Linked DNA regions of Homo sapiens: region 1 is linked to region 2. Evidence: fine-mapped expression QTL. Tissue or cell type: whole blood. Region 2 holds a variant in brackets; the other region holds the start of a gene. All regions are shown on one strand. Distances are from middle to middle.

Region 1 (8,116 bases), 120 kb after region 2:
CATTTCCAAACATGTGTGACTACGATTCTAAGCCCTTTAGTCTGTTTCACTGGTTAGTCTATTCCACACCAATGCCACACTAAATTTTACTTGCCGTAGTACTGATATTTGGTAGAGCAGGTCCTCAAATCTATCATCTATTCTTTCCTTCTTTATTATTATTATTTTTTTTTTTTTGAGACAGAGTATTGCTCTGTGGCTCAGGCTGGGGTGCAGTGGCGCATTCTCAGCTCACTGCAACCTCTGTCTCCTGGGTTCAAGCGATTCTCCTGCCTCAGCCTCCCAAGTAGCTGGGGTTACAGGTGCCCACCACCATGCCCAGTTTTTACATTTTTTAGGAGAGACGAGGTTTCACCATGTTGGCCAGGCTGCTCTTGAACTCCTGACCTCAAGTGATCCGCCCACCTCGGCCTCCCGAAGTGCTGGGATTAGAGGCGTAAGCCACCACACCCAGCCCTCATATCTATTTTTTTTCCATAATAATGTCAAGGTTATCCTTGGCCTTCTGCTCTTCTGAATGAATTTTAGAATCAGTTTGAAGTTTCCAAGAAATGCATTGACCCTATAGATAAATTTGGAGAGAACTGACAATCTTCACATCTATGAAACTGGGATATCTATTTAATTAGATTTTTTACTTTCTCCATAGTTGCTTAATTTTTTAATGTACTGATCACTTCTCCATCGATTTTTTCTGCAACAAAATTATTTCTAAGTTTTAAAAAATTTTAAATTCATTTTTTTTTATTTTTTTGAGATGGGGTCTCCCTCTGTTGCCCAGGCTGGAGTGCAGTGGCACGATCTTGGGCCACTGTAACCTCCACCTCCCAGGTTCAAGTGATTCTCCTGCTTCAGCCTCCCGAGTAGATGGGATTACAGGAGCGGGCCACCACGCCTGGCTTATTTTTTTGTATTTTTAGTAGAGATGGGGTTTCACCATGTTGGACAGGCCGATCTCGAACTCCTGGCCGCAGGTGATCTACCCGCCTCGGTCTCCCAAAGTGCTGGAATTACAGACGTGAGCTACCGTGCCTGGCCTTACATTTATTTCTACTTTTTAGAGACACGGTCTCGTTCTGTCTCCCAGGCTGGCAAGCAGTGGCACAATCATAGCTCTCTGCATACTCAAACACCAGGGCTCAAGCTATTCTCCTGCCTCAGCCTCTCAAGTAGCGGGGACTACAGGCATGAGTAACTGTGCCTAGACTAAAATTATTTCTAGATATTAAACAATATTATTTGCAGACTGCAGTGAATGGTCAGGAAACTTCATATATTTGCTGCACTGACTTGTTTCTGATTGGTTTCCTTAATTTATACAGCCAACAAATACTTATTAATAATAAGCTACCCCAGCCTGGCCAATATGACGAAACCTCGTCGCTACTAAAAATACAAAAAAAATTAGCCGGGCTTGGTGGTGGGCGCCTGTAGTCCCAGCTACTCAGGATGCTAAGGCAGGAGAATCGCTTGAACCCAGGAGGCGGAGATGGCAGTGAGCAGAGATCGCGCCACTGCACTTCAACCTGGGTGACAGAGCGAGACTCCGTCTCAAAACAAACAGTAATAATAATAATAAGCTACCTATGTGCCAGACTCTATGCTATGCACTGATGGGGAAAAAAAAATCCTCTACTATTCTACTCTCACCCTTGAAAAAACCATTGTCTCTCTTCTTTTCCTTCATTCCAGTGCCACCAAAAATATGCTCTATGTTTGAATCTTAACTTGAACAATTCTTCCCATCGGACAATCCATCATCCTCTGCACATTAAAACTTGAATGGTTCTTTTAATTTCACATGCTCTGAAGAGGAGACAGAAAGGGTAGCATTATGATACTTCTCTTCCTACAAGATCTGCACCTGTCGCAGTAGATAAATTCATTCAAGTCACTTACATAAACAATTTCAATCTTAGGACTTCAAAACCTCCCACGGGTATGTAAACTGCCCCAACAAAGAAAGAGGCAAGTATAACAAAAATGGCATAAACTATGGTTTCTGCATTAGGAAGTCTTAAGAAGCATTAAGAATTATTTAAGGCCGGGTGCGGTGGTTCATACCTGTAATTCCACCACTTTGGGAGGCTCAGGCGAGTGGATCACTTGAGGTCAAGAGTTCGAGACCAGACTGGCCAACATGGTGAAAACCCATCTCTACTAAAATACAAAAATTAGCCAGGCATGGTGGCACGCGCCTGTAGTCCCAGCTACTTGGGAGGCTGAGGCACGAGAATCGGCTTGAACCCGGGAGGTGGAGGTTGCAGTGAGCCTAGATCGCACCACTGCACTCCAGCCTGGGGGACAGAGCAAGACTCTGTCAAAAAAAAAAACACAAAAAACAAAAAACCACCTTAACTAGGAAACTGGTGAAAACTAGTCTTCTTAACTAGAAAATTGGCGGGGATTCCCTCAGATTGTACACCGGAAACTCAGGCTAGTCAGGTCTCAGAAATATAGGTCAGATTTCTAGGTCGGCCCGCCTACTCCCCAGCCTTCCAACATTAAGATCTCTCCAGGGCCTTCAAGCTCTGTCTTCATCTCTAAATCTACTCAGGTCTTTCATTCACTGCACAGTTACTTAGTACCTATGGTGTTGTCAAACATAGTGGCTAGAGGAAGGGAATACAAAAGCACAATGTCTGCAGTCAAAGGGGCTCACAGCAAGATTACGGTTTGTAAATACATAATTACTCCACAATGTGATAATCGATATCTTTCAAAACAGAAGGGTTGATTCAATCTTACAGGGAGTGACTGAGTTGGGTCTTACAAAGGATGAGCTTTGCAATTCAAGAAAAAAGAAAAAAAAGGCAGACCATTTCAGCAGAGAGAAAGAGAGAAAGGCGTGGTTAGGCGTGTGCTGGGAGCTGTTTGAGGTCAGTGAAGCTGGGGGTATGAGGAGGGCTCGCACCAGGTGGAGGTTGGGAAACCTCAGAGTTGCGGGAGAAATCAGAATCCAGGTCCCCTCAGCCTCCCTGGGGCCGCGCCCCATAGCCGGTTTCAGACCAGCCGCCCCGGCTCCAAGCCCCACTACAAGCCGGGAAACGCAAAACGGAGGCAACCTGGCCAAAGGCAGAGGCACCCCCCGCAAGACCCTGAGGACCCAAACTGGCCCAGCGGACTGCCCGCACCTTGCCAAGCAGCCGTCTCAGGCCCTCGCAGTCGAACTCCATCTCCAGGCCGGTCCCGAGCTAGGTCCCAGGACTCCAGCCCCCGGACCTTCTTCCGGACTTGCTGCAGGACGGAAGCCGCTGAGGACCAAACTTCCCGGCGGTCCAAGGCCCCGCCCCTTCCCAGACTGGAAATTCCACCCGCATTCAACGCCCCGGGCTCAGCCGCGGCTGCGCCCGGAATCCGGGGCCTCTCCTTCGTGACCCCGGAGTGGGCAAGTGACGAGGGCACGGCCAGAAACGCATTGGCGTCAAGGAAACCACGACCCATCTTCCTGGAAGGAAACTTGGGGACACTTATGAAGAGAAGACTAGGAAGGACCGGAGTAGAAGCACTAAAGGAGGTAGAGGCAACACGCGGTGTTCTTGAAGAGTTTCCAGACAGATGTATTAAATTCCACAGTGTATCAGGAAAGAGCAAGACCGAAAATTGCAGTTGAATTTAGGAAGGAGGCGGTAATGGAACTTCAGAAGCAAAATTTCAGGGAGTAGAAAGGAAAAACAAAGTCAGGAGGAGCCTTGCCGGAGAAGCGGAGATAGGACAGCCCCAGCATGAGGGTGGCTTAGCACGGGGAGAGTGGTTGCTTTTTTTATTTTTTTTAGGGGTGCCATAACAATGTTGGTGGTCAAAGAGAGGAGAAATCCAGGTGAACAAATAGTTGGAAAACAAGAGAGGAGGGAGATGGGTGGATAAGGTCATCTGGAGAAGGTGGGTGAAGAAGAGATGCAGGATACAGTAATTTTCTGGCGTTGTTTGATCTCCTTGGCCCATGGCTGACTTACCTGCCCTGTATCCCTGGCCTGAGCCACTGAAGCGAAAAGTCCCAGGAGCTGGATATTGTAATTGTCAAGAGGTTGGACATATAGGAGAGAGATTGTATTTATAGGAAGATCTGAAGGGAGTGCTGCCCTGACTCAGGAGAAGAAGCTGAAAAGCTGGAAGGAACATTCATTCAGAAAGTTTTTGTTGAGCATCTACTACTTGCCAGCTATTTTTCCAGGTCTCAGGATACAGCCGTGAACAAAATACACTCAGATAGCTGATGTCTTAAGGGTGTCATTCCTTTATTAGCAGAGAGAGAGCAAAACAATAAATGTAATAAGTAAATTATTCAGCATGTCAGAAGGTTGATTACGTGTTGTGGAGAATAAATTCTGAAAAGGGTAGGGAGATTGGGGTAGGTCTCACTGAGGGGTGAGGGAGTAAGTGTTACGAATCCGAGTGCAGACAAAGCAGTAGCCTAAGGCATGTGCCCAGGGAGGCTCAACACAGCAAGGAGGCCAGTGTGGCTGGAGTAGAATGAAGTAAGATGGGAGTGGAGACAAGGAGGCTAAGTCAGGGAAATAAGACGGGGGAACAAGTGGTTTAGAGAAGTGAGTCTTCTAGTGTGAGCCCCAGATCTGCAGCCTCAGGTGCTGGGAGTTGTTAGAAATGCAGATGCTAAGACCTCAACCCCAGCTTTATTCAATCACAGGCTCTGGGGTTGGGGACCAGCAATTCTCTTTTAACAATTCTTCCAGATGATTCTGATGGGTGATGAAGTCCAAGAACCACTGTGGGACTTTGTAGACAATTGTAAGGACTCTGGCCTGTCCCTGCCCTCCAGCCAGAGACCATCAGGAACACACCTGTGCTTAAACAAGTTGAGTTCATTATTAATAGTTCTTGCAGTGAGGAAGCAGGTGTTGTGGAGGACCATTGGGACAGCTTGGTGAGGGTGAGAGAACCTATTATAGAATTTGGGCGATTTGCGGGAGGGCTCAAGAAAGCCAGGCTTCACCCTGGATTGGGTGCTGTCAGAAAGCAGGGACATTTCTGTGACTAGGTATCTGAATAAGTATTGTCTATAAGATGGACAGACTAGAGTGAGGATAAAGCTATACCTAGTAAAGAAGCAGCAGTCACTCATAATAGCAGAGAAGGACGTTTGGTATTTCATGGCTTGCACAGTGACCTTGCTCTCTTGTCTCTGCTTAGACACAATTTTGAAATGGCCTTGTTGTTGTGTCCCTTTTTTATAGTCTGACTGACCTTGTCTCATGTTGGTGTTCTGTGAGATTATGTCCCACAGAAGAATAACTGGGCCAAGCTGTGAGCATCAGGCCAGCTTCTAACAACCCTGAAGTCTAGCTGTGTCAGACCAGCTCTCAGATGTCAGGGCCTGCCTCTTCCTTTCTCAGGCTTTTAATCTGGGAGAAAGAGAAAGCCACTGGGAGGTTTCGAACAGAACAGTGACATGATCTGACTGAGCTTTAAAAAAATATTAATAACTCTGCAGTGTTGTGAAGAGGCAGTAGTGTCAGGCAAGAGTAGGCCAGAAGACAAGGTAGGAGGAAGATTACAGAGAAAAGCTGATAGAAGGGCTGTTAAGTGCATCTCAGCCAGATCTAACCAACCTTAAAACAGTAGAACTGCCAGGGGCTCCAAATTCTAATAGATCCTGCCAGAAATCCGTGGTATAAGGAAAAGATACCAGTTAGCAGCAAGGCCAGAGCAAGATTCTTCCATCTTTTATGAAAGAGCCTTTTATGAAAGAGGCCTTCCAACCAAACCAATTCTCTTCTGGTCTAGTCACTATGCACACTTTATGCCAGAGAGAGTGTGAGTGAGTGAGTGTGTGTGTGTGTATGTAGCATTTCCTTTGTGGAAGGTATACTGCTAAGAGTTTTATGTGCTTTATCTCCGTTCATCTTCATAAGACCCTATGACCTGGATAGAATTATTACCTCAATTTTACTGATAAGAAAATTGAGGTGTATTGTTATATTACCTATTTTACTTGTTTCTGAGGTTCTGTTGAATAAGAGATGTATTAATGATAGCTTTTGGGGGGAGAAGAAAACTACAAAATTAAACATACATACTGATTTTAACACACCTATTTGAAAAGAATGTAAATGTGAAATAGAGGATATGTATATAATTGTCTCCATTTTACAGATAGGGAAACCAAAGACTAAGGTTAAATTACTGCAGAAGATGATGTCAAAGACTGTCTTCCTAAACTACATGTTATAGTGCCTCTCACTGTGGGTGAAATTGTGATGACACTTTGTGATTAATAATAGTCTAGGAAATCAGCCAGGTGTGGTGGCTCATGCCTGTAATCCCAGCACTTTGGGATGCCCAGGCAGGCGTATCATCTGAGGTCAGGAGTTCGAGACCAGCCTGGCTAACATGGCGAAACCTCATCTCTGCTAAAAATACAAAAATTAGCTGGATGTGGCGGCAGGTGCCTTTCATCCCAGCTCTTTGGGAGGCTGAGGGAGGGAGAATTGCTTGAAGTTGGGAGGCAGAGGTTACAGTGAGCCGAGATCTTGCCACTGTATTCAGCCTGGGCAACAGAGTGAGATTCCATCAAAAAAAAAAAGGTCTACAAAGTCTGAATTATGTGCTTATATTGCTATGCAGTTACAAGAGAAAGGCTGTGTAGTACTGAAATTGGCTTTTTTTTTTAAGCCTCTCCCTTGACTTCCATCCTGACCACCAGGCTACCCTCATCTCCTGAAACTGGTGCTATTAGATCCTATAATCCAGTTAGGCTGAAACATTCACTCTTCCCCAAGTACATTGTCTTCTTCCTTGCCTCATACCTTAGTAGCTGCCAGGAGTGTTTTATTATACTTTTGTACCTGTCTACCTCCATCTCCACTCCTCTTTCTGTCCTCAGATACTGTAAGGCCCTGGCAAATAGGGGTTGAATCTCATTCATCTCTATATTCCCAGTGCCTAGCATAATTATTTATGCATATATTCCTTCTTATATGTAGAAAGCCAGATATAAAGAACCTGCAGTGGAAAGTTTGCAGAATGAATGAACGTATAAGGTGATCAATGCCTTAAGGAGAAGAAGGTATAGTGTACTAGTTCTCAGCCTTATCTGGGCTTCAGACTTTTTTTTAAAACGTCTGTTGAGACCGGGCTCAGTGGCCCACTCCTGTAATCCCAACACTCTGGGGCTAAGACAGGAGGATCACTTCGGCCCAGGAGTTTGAGACCAGTCTGTTTTGTAGACCCAACTCTACAAAAAATTTAAAAATTAGCCGGGCATGGTGGTGCACACCTGTAATCCCAGCTACTTGGGAAACTAGAGCAGGAGGATCTCTTGCGCCCAGGGGGCTGAGGCTGCACTGAGCTGTGTTTGTGCCACTGCATTCCAGCCTGGGTGACAGAGCAAGATCGTGTCTCAAAAAAAAATCTGTTGAAGATATAGACCTGTCCCTGTATACATACTCATGTATACAGTTTGTTTTGTGTCCAGTTTCTGGAATGTTTGTAGATTTACTGAAGTCTGCTAGACCCCAAGTGTCGTTGGTGGGATCATAATTTGCTACAACCTTTGGGCAGAGTAGTCTTGGACCTTTGACCCCATAATGCCACATTGGGAATCTGTCTTACAGAAATAAAAGTACTCAGGATATATGTACAAAGATGTTAATAATGTTAAAAGGGGCAAAAATGTCCCAAACTAAGAAATGGGAAAAGTGTATATGCTGCATCTTTGTAAGTTTTAGAAAAAACACAAAAATGGCTTGTTTAAAATTAGAGCTTGTTTTTTTTTTTTTTTGGTGCTGTACTTCTGATCTCTCTTTATACCCTTTGTTGCTTTCATGATTATTGGCCCTAGCAGACATATTAGGGGACAAAACCTTGTTATTCCAGATATCACACATATATGTATTCTTATCATATACTTCTTTTTTTTTTTTTTTTTTGAGATGGAGTCTTGCTCTGTCGCCCAGGCTAGAGTGCAGTGGCACAATCTTGGCTCACTGCAACGTCTGCCTCCTGGGTTCAAGTGATTCTCCTGTTGTAGCCTCCCGAGAAGCTGAGATTACAGGTGTGCACCACCATACCTGGCTAATTTTTGAATTTTTAGTAGAAACAGGATTTCACCATGTTGGTCAGGCTGGTCTCGAACTCCTGACCTCAGGTGATCCAC
Region 2 (8,000 bases):
GTGTGAGGCCAGATGCAGTGGCTGAAGCCTGTAATCCCAGCACTTTGGGAGCCCAAGGTGGGTGAAGTGCTTGAATCCAGGAGTTTGAGAATGGCCTGGGCAACATGACAGAACTCCATCTCTACAAAAAAATACAAAAATTATCAGGGCATGGTGGAGCATTCCTGTAGTCCCAGCTACTCAGGAGGCTGAGGCGGGAGGATTGCTTCAGCCAGGGAGGTCAAGGCTGCAGTGAGCCATGATTGCGCCACTGCACTCCAGCCTGGGTCACAGTGAGACCCTGTCTCAAAAAAAAAAAAAAAAAAAAGTAGTGTGTATGGGAAGATAATATGCTTAATCATATGAGTTCAAGGTTTATATTCTAAAGGCTGAGGTTTGTTTTCCAAATTACTGTTTGAGAAGTGAAAGTAGGGCTATAGTTTACTGCCTGACTCTCCAAAATTGTACTAGACTCCTCACTGGTGCATTTACAAGGTGGACAAACTGAAAATAGACTTCGGAGATAAAATGTGCAGGACTGCTGATAGATTATGTCTAGTGAGAGAAAGGGAGGAATAAAAAATAACTTCGAGAGTTTTTCCTTTGAGTAACTGAAGGGATGGTAGTTCCATTTAACTGGGTTGGTAAATTTACTGATCGGGTGGGAGTCAGTGAGGGAAGGAGGCAGGGATGTTACATATAGAGGGGAAAAATCAAGATACCTGAAATGATACTCAAGAGGAAATGTCAAACAGCTAGAGATTATGAGTCTGGAGCTTAGTAGTTTAGGGATATTCAAATTACTGTATTCTAAAATTATTTGGAGTAGTTTTTCTCTGTGCAGACCAACAGTGAGTGCATGATTAAGTTTATTCATTTTAATTTCGATGCTGAAGAACTATTTAACTTTTGTTTCACAGTTTTATAAAATATTCACATGGCTCCAACATCAATTCTAGAGAACAGGAATTATTCAAAGTGGTCCAGCTTCTGTCCCTGTGCCCTTTCCCCTATAGCCTCCATCCTTTTATAGGTAACCATTTACACTTTTTATGGTTTACAGCTTTTTGTTACTACATACGTTTTTCTCCATCTTCTTTCATTTTTAACTTAATATATCATGAAGCTCAACTCCATAGTAGTATTTATAAATATGTTGATTACTGTAGCTTTGTGGTAAGTTTTGAAATCAGGATGTATTAAGTCTTCTGACTATTCTTTAAGATTATTTTGGGTCAGGCGTGGTGGCTCACACCTGGAATCCCAGCACTTTGGGAGCTGAGCCAGGTGGATCACCTGAGGTGAGGAGTTCAAGACCAGCCTGGCCAACATGGCAAAATCCCATCTTTACTAAAAATACAAAAATTAGCTGGGCATGGTGGTGCACACCTGTAATCCTAGCTACTTGGGAGGCTGAGGCAAGAGAATCGCTTGAACCCAGGAGGCAGAGGCTGCAGTGAGCTGAGATCGCACCACTGCACTCCAGCCTGGGCAACAGGGCAAGACTGTCTCAAAAAAAATATATATATATACACACATATATATATATATATATATATATATATATATATATATACACACACATATATATATACACACACATATATATATACGTATATATATACGTATATATATACGTATATATATGCATATATATACGTATATATATACATATATATACGTATATATATATACATATATATACGTATATATATATACATATATATATATATATTTTGCTTGTCTGGATCTTTAGCATTTCCATATGAATTTATGTATCAGCTTGTCAATTTCTGAAGTAAAACCAGCAAGGATTTTGATAGGGATTACTGCTGATTCATTTTGGTTCTTTTGTATTTAATAAGTTGTTTTTCTCTTGCTGTTTCCAGTATTTTCTCTTTGGCTTGTAACAGTTTGACTATGATGTGTTGAAGTGTGAATGTCTTTCAGTTTATACCACTTGGCATTCATTGAGCAGCTTGGATGTATAGGTTTTTTTTTTTTTCTTTTTTTGAGATGGAGTCTTGCCCTGTGGCCCAGACTGGAGTGCAGTGGCATGATCTCGGCTCATTGCAACCTCCGCCTCCTGGATTCAAGTGATTCTTGTGCCTCAGCCTCCTGAGTAGCTGGGATTATGGGCACCCACCACCACTCCTGGCTAACTTTTTGTATTTTTAGTAGAGACGGGGTTTCTCCATGTTGGCCAGGCTGGTCTTGAACTCCTGACCCGAACTGATCTGCCCACCTCAGCCTCCCAAAGTGCTGGGACTACAGGCATGAGCCACTGCACCCGGCTTGGATGTATAATGTTTTTCTATTTGGGAAGTTTCAGCTGTTACTTCTTTGAATAATTTTCTGCTCCTCTCCCTTCCTTCTGGTCCTACCATACATGCATATATATGTTGGTGTGTTTAACGGTATCCCATAAGTTTGAGGCTGTTTTTTCTTTTTTAAAATAGTTCATAGATTATCAAAAGTTCTTTTTGTATGGCATTGAGATTTATTTATATATTTAACTGCATGCATATCTTTAGCTTTCACATAAATTTTGCTTCATACAGGCTATTGGTATAAGCATTTCCTCTTTTAAGAGTTTGATTCTTTAAAAAAAATACCAAATCCAAAATTCAGAAATGGTAGTCCGGCGCTACAAGGAAGCACACTGAAAATAACAAGCTGATGATACATTATCACATTGTACAATAGTATTTTATATTTTCTTACACACTTTCCAGTAAGTTTTTTCACATCCTGAAATGTCACGGTGTCATTTTTGAAAGGAGAGCTGTGGAGAGATTCTGATATGACTCAGAGTTGTGAAGGCACCTGGTGGAGCTCCTTCATTAATTTCTCTAACCGTTCAGGGCACTGAAGTCTGTGGGGACAGTAAGTTCACATTTACTGTTTGTGTTAAGTGAATCCCCAACCTACTTTGATTTGCACTAAAACGCCTCTACCCTCAAAGTACCGCGTCATTAAGGTTATATGATAACAAATTAGGAAAAACAAATTAAGCATCACTTGCTTGGCAACATTAACTGGCCCACCACACTCCCACCACAGATTTTAGAAGTGTACATTAGCAAAAGATGCTTCTCTATGCATTATGGCAGAAGTCTATTAAAGAATATTTAATTTATTGACTAATATTTCTAATAAGCACATTCAGAGGATACTCTTTCTACATTTTATATACTGGCTGTCTGCCATTAACAGCAGTAAAAATAAGGAAAAATAAAAAAATCTCAATCTCAAATGATTTAACAGCTTAGTTCTGTATTTGCTTGACAGTGTATGCAGTTATAGTACACACTATCAAATATATCTTCCATATCTATTTAGAAAACTTATTCTGATATTAGAACCATGTGAAGAAAGTCTTCTCCATTATTTTAGTGAGTCTGTTAAAATGGTCCACTAAGAACCATCTTCAAAATTTCAGGTGCTTCAAAAGTTAAGAGAAACAATTAACTTCATTACTCTAATACAAAACAAAAACAAAAACAAAAACTGACAACTTTAAATTAGTATTAAGCTACCAAAAATTGATACCACTCAGGAAAGATTTTTTCCCCCCCGAATGATAATTTTATTTATTTTTTTGAGACAGAGTCTCTGTCTGTCACCCAGGCTGGAGTGCAGTGATGCAATATCGGCTCACTGCAATCTCCGCCTCCCAGGTTCAAGCAATTCTCATGCCTCAGCTTCCCAAGTAGCTGGGATTACAG[G/C]CATGTGCCACCATGCCCAGCTAATTTTTGTATTTTTAGTACAGATGGGGTTTTACCATGTTAGGCTGGTCTTGAACTCCTGGCATCAAATGATCTGCCTGCCTTGGCCTCCCAAGGTGCTGGGATTATAGGCGTGAGCCACCGCGTGGCACTGAATGATAATATTTAGCTAAAATTTTAGTGAAAGAAAAGGCAATTCTGAGAGCAATCTGGGTAGAGAGGGGTTTCTCAGGCGTAGGTACTAATTCCCATGCAGGACTGCCTTCAGATGCAGCTCCCGTGTCTCCACAGTCCTCAAGGCCTGGTTTTGGTGGTTCTGTAGTAAAGGCTTCACACATGTGTAATATGTATAGGTAGCATCACTACAAAATGGAGTGCAAGTTCAAATCAGAGTTTTAAGGTCAGGAAAAGTAAGTATCATTTAAATGAATCACCAGAGACACTTTTAGAAGTTCTTAAGTTCCTTTAGAAATCTCCCTTTCAAGGATGTGCCAATTTTTATTTTGGCAAATCATGGATAAAAACTAAATGTATTAATAGTTATGATGATTGTGGTGCTATTTTTTAAACATTACTAACTTTATAGCAATACTCACATTTACCTATTTACCTAGCACACTTTTTTTTTTTTTTGAGATGGAGTCTTGGTCTGTTGCCCAGGCTGGAGTGCAGTGGCGTGATCTCGGCTCACTGCCACCTCCACCTCCCGGGTTCAAGCAATTCTCCTGCCTCAGCCTCCCAAGTAGCTGGAATTACAGGCGTGCACTACCACGCCCAGCTAATTTTTGTATTTTTAGTAGAGACGGGGTTTCACCATGATGGCCAGTCTGGTCTCAAACTCCTAACCCCAAGAGATCCGCTCACTTCAGCCTCCCAAAGTGCTGGGATTACAGGCGTGAGCCACAGCGCCTGGCCACATTTCAACAGTGTTTTATTTTCAGTAACTGACCTACTGCAGTCTATTTTCAGACTTTTAGTTTATATATGATATTTTATTATGCTGATATGAATGTGAAATTTTAAAAATTAAAACAAGCAATTAGTAAGGGTTTCTTATTTATGTTAAATATTAATTTATCTTACCTAAGTGCATAATTTTGTCCATGTAGTGGTAGAATTGTAAAACTAAACTTTAGAAGTTTTTTTTTTTTTTTTTGAGAGAGGGTTTTGCTCTGTTGCTCAGGCTGGAGTGCAGTGGCGCAAACTTGGCTCACTGCAACCTCCGCCTCCTGGGTTCAAGTGATTCTCGTGCCTCAGCTTCCCAAGTAGCTGGGATTGCAGGCGCACACCATCATGCCCAGTTAATTCTTGTATTTTCAGTAGAGCTGGAGTTTTGCCATGTTGCCCAGGCTGGTCTTGAACTCCTGGCCTCAAGTGATCTACCCACCTTGACCTCCCGAAGTGCTGGGATTACAGACGTGAACCGCCACGCCTGCATACAGATCTTATTTCAGTTACAAAAACACACTGTTGACATTATTTTAATATAGCATTTTAGTTTATTACTGTGGAAATGTGGAGCACAAGACATGACAAATACTAGGTATTAATTTCAAAACTGTTCAGAATGAGGCTGGGCGTGGTGGTTCACACCTGTAATCCCAGAACTTTGGGAGGCTGAGGCGGGAGGATTGCTTGAGCCCAGGAGTTCAAGACCAGCCTGGGCAAAATGGTGAAACCCTGTCTCTATTAAAAAAAAAAAAAAAAAAAATTTTTTCCAAAAGAACAAAAATCTACCCAGAATGGCTTATGAAGGTTTGTAATTGTTGATTTAAGAGTATTTAGGATTTTTTTTTTTTTTTTACAAATTAAAAAGTTCCAGTAACTATTTACATGAACTAAATGACCAAATGGAAGTGGAAAATGGAAAATTTAGAGGGCAGTACGGTAAGGGAGGGGATGTAAAATAATACAGGAAGATAACCTAAACAATTGAAGATCAAAGATTTAGGAAAAGTTTAACCTTTTCTTCAAATCTATAGTCATTTACCTAGAAAATGCGGTTGGGTACCCTGGGACACAGCTGAGTTACTTGCTCTGTTTTCAGTTTACCAATTAAAACAGGTCACATTCTCTGTTCCAGACCCAGGGCCTGGCAGAGGTCCCCCAATCCCCTTGAGTTTCAGTGGCAGTTGACGAACCTCTTAAGGCCCAGGATGACTAACCGAGGTTCTTCACTTGACAGCTTTATGTATGAGGAAACTTAAAGACATTTCTACCATACTTCTCTCCATCTCAGGTATTAGAATGAATGCTTACCATTTAAAATAGTGGTATGATCAGACTGTTTCAGTATCACTTTTTACCATCAATGGATATTAAACAGGGAACAGAAGCTCTAACTTTTACATTAATGGAAATATTACCTGTTTAGAAAACACTGTTTCAGAGGACAAAAGATGTCATCTTCATATCTTTTTAAAGTGTCTAATTTCTACTATTTGAGTACTTAAATCTGCCATAAAAAATATGGATTTACAAAAAAGACAAATTAGAAATTATGTCCTTCACAGAGATCCACTACAGGATTCTGAATCTTAAATTGTCTTCATATGTTTAGGATAGAATTTGATGCATTTATTATTTTTAAAGTATGAGTTATTACATAAAGCTAAGTTAAAAGTTCAACCAAATGGAAAAGGTACCAACAAATGCCTAAAATACTATTCTAATCATCTAAAACAAGAACAAATAGATTTTTCAAATAAGAGTTGAATCAATATTTATTTTAGACACTTCATTTACTTGAAAGCTGCTACTTTATTACTTAAAGACTGAGCCTGTAAGAAAATAAAAGAGGTTTAATTCAAATAATATGAAAGTGAACTCTTTACCTTACCTGTTTTTCCCCAAATAATTTTGACTTCATTAATGGAAATTTATGTGAATGGCTCTAAAAACCACCTATTTTGAAACTGCAGAAATAGCAGGACAATCACTTTGTAGAATGATTTGTGAAATATTGTCCTACTACACTTAAAAAAAAAACCCAACACATTTCCTCACTTACGAGTATTTTCTTATTTTTGATATTGCAAATTCTATACATAGAACACCTCTTCATTGTCCTGCTGAAACCCTCAGAATGTAGAGGTGGTTCAAAAGTAATTTATACCATTTTTACCCAGGCTTTGTAAACATGTATCAAAGAGATAGCAAGGTATTCAGTTTTAGTAAACAAAATAATTGCTCCTATAGTAGCTCCTCAAAGTCCCAGGCAAGTAGGCATTAGCAGTTTTCTATTAGATAATTCTACCATCTCCAAATAAGGACTTTGGTCTGTTTATAAAAACTAATTGATAGATGAAGGTAGGTAGGTAGACAGACAGACAGACAGACAGACAGATAGATACAGGCTTTTGCTTTGTTACCTATGCTGAAGTGCAGTGGCACAACCATAGCTCATTGTAACCTTGAACCCCTGGGCTCAAGTGATCCTGTCTCAGCCTCCCAAGTATCTGGGACTAAAGGTGCATGCCACCACACTTGACTACTTTTTACATTTTGTAGAGACGCGGTCTTGTTATGTTGCCCAGGCTGGTCTCAAACTCCAAGTCTCAAGTGATCCTCCCACCTCAGCCTCCCTGTAAGAATTGGGATTACAGGTGTGAGCCACCGTGTCTGGCCTTGGTTTATTCTTGGTAGTTTTTTTCTCCCTTGTCCTATTGCATAACCTAGAAGACTCTCCAGTATAATGTTAAACAGAAACAGTGATAGTGGGTATCCTTGTCTTGTTTCTGACTTTAATGAAAAGGCTTCTAAGTTTTCTTCATAATGTATGTTTGCTTTGGATTTTGATAGATACCTTTTTAAGATAAAAAGCAGTTTCCTTCTGTTCCTAGATTTAGTTTTATTTTTTAATCCCTGAATGAGTTTTCCTACAGTTAAAATGATCATATCTATCTTTTTCTTTAAATCTCATCTGATGTAATATGTTGACAGATTTTTTGATATTGAACCACCTTTGCATTTCTGGGGTGAAGCTTCTTCTTAAAGTATTTTTCTTTCTCATTTTCTTTTCTTTTTGAGACGGAGTCTTGCTCTGTCGCCCAGGCTGGAGTGCAATGGTGTGATCTCGGCTCACTGCAACCTTCACCTCCCGGGTTCAAGCAATTTTCTGCCTCAGCCTCCCAAGTAGCTGGGATTACAGGTGTCCACCACCACGCCTGGCTAATTTTTTTATTTTTAGTAGAGATGGGGTTTCACCATGTTGACCAGGCTGGTCTTAAACTCCTGACCTCGTGATCCACCCGCCTCGGCCTCCCAAAATGCTGGGATTACAGGCGTGAGTCA

What was found. PIP is the estimated chance that this variant, and not a neighbour inherited with it, causes the effect.
Region 1: it holds the start of UEVLD, and the variant in region 2 is fine-mapped to the expression of UEVLD in whole blood (TOPMed, PIP above 0.99).

Annotation. Positions count from the first base shown.
Region 1 is chr11:18,585,479-18,593,594 of GRCh38, forward strand. UEVLD (UEV and lactate/malate dehyrogenase domains) reads right to left here and starts at 3,256. Exons shown (of 12, transcript NM_001040697.4): 1 at 3,135-3,256. The coding sequence starts at 3,176. It overlaps LOC112268073 (a long non-coding RNA gene), which reads right to left. Exons shown (of 4, transcript XR_002957242.2): 3 at 5,058-5,363; 4 at 4,615-4,802. RefSeq lists enhancers at 2,304-2,413, 2,814-2,963, 3,004-3,063, 3,124-3,418, 3,324-3,373.
Region 2 is chr11:18,466,365-18,474,364 of GRCh38, forward strand. The region is part of intron 3 of LDHAL6A (lactate dehydrogenase A like 6A); the gene reads left to right. Among named protein-coding and RNA genes, the nearest start is that of LDHAL6A, 15 kb to the left of the region's middle. The variant G/C (reference allele first, on the strand shown) is at 3,708.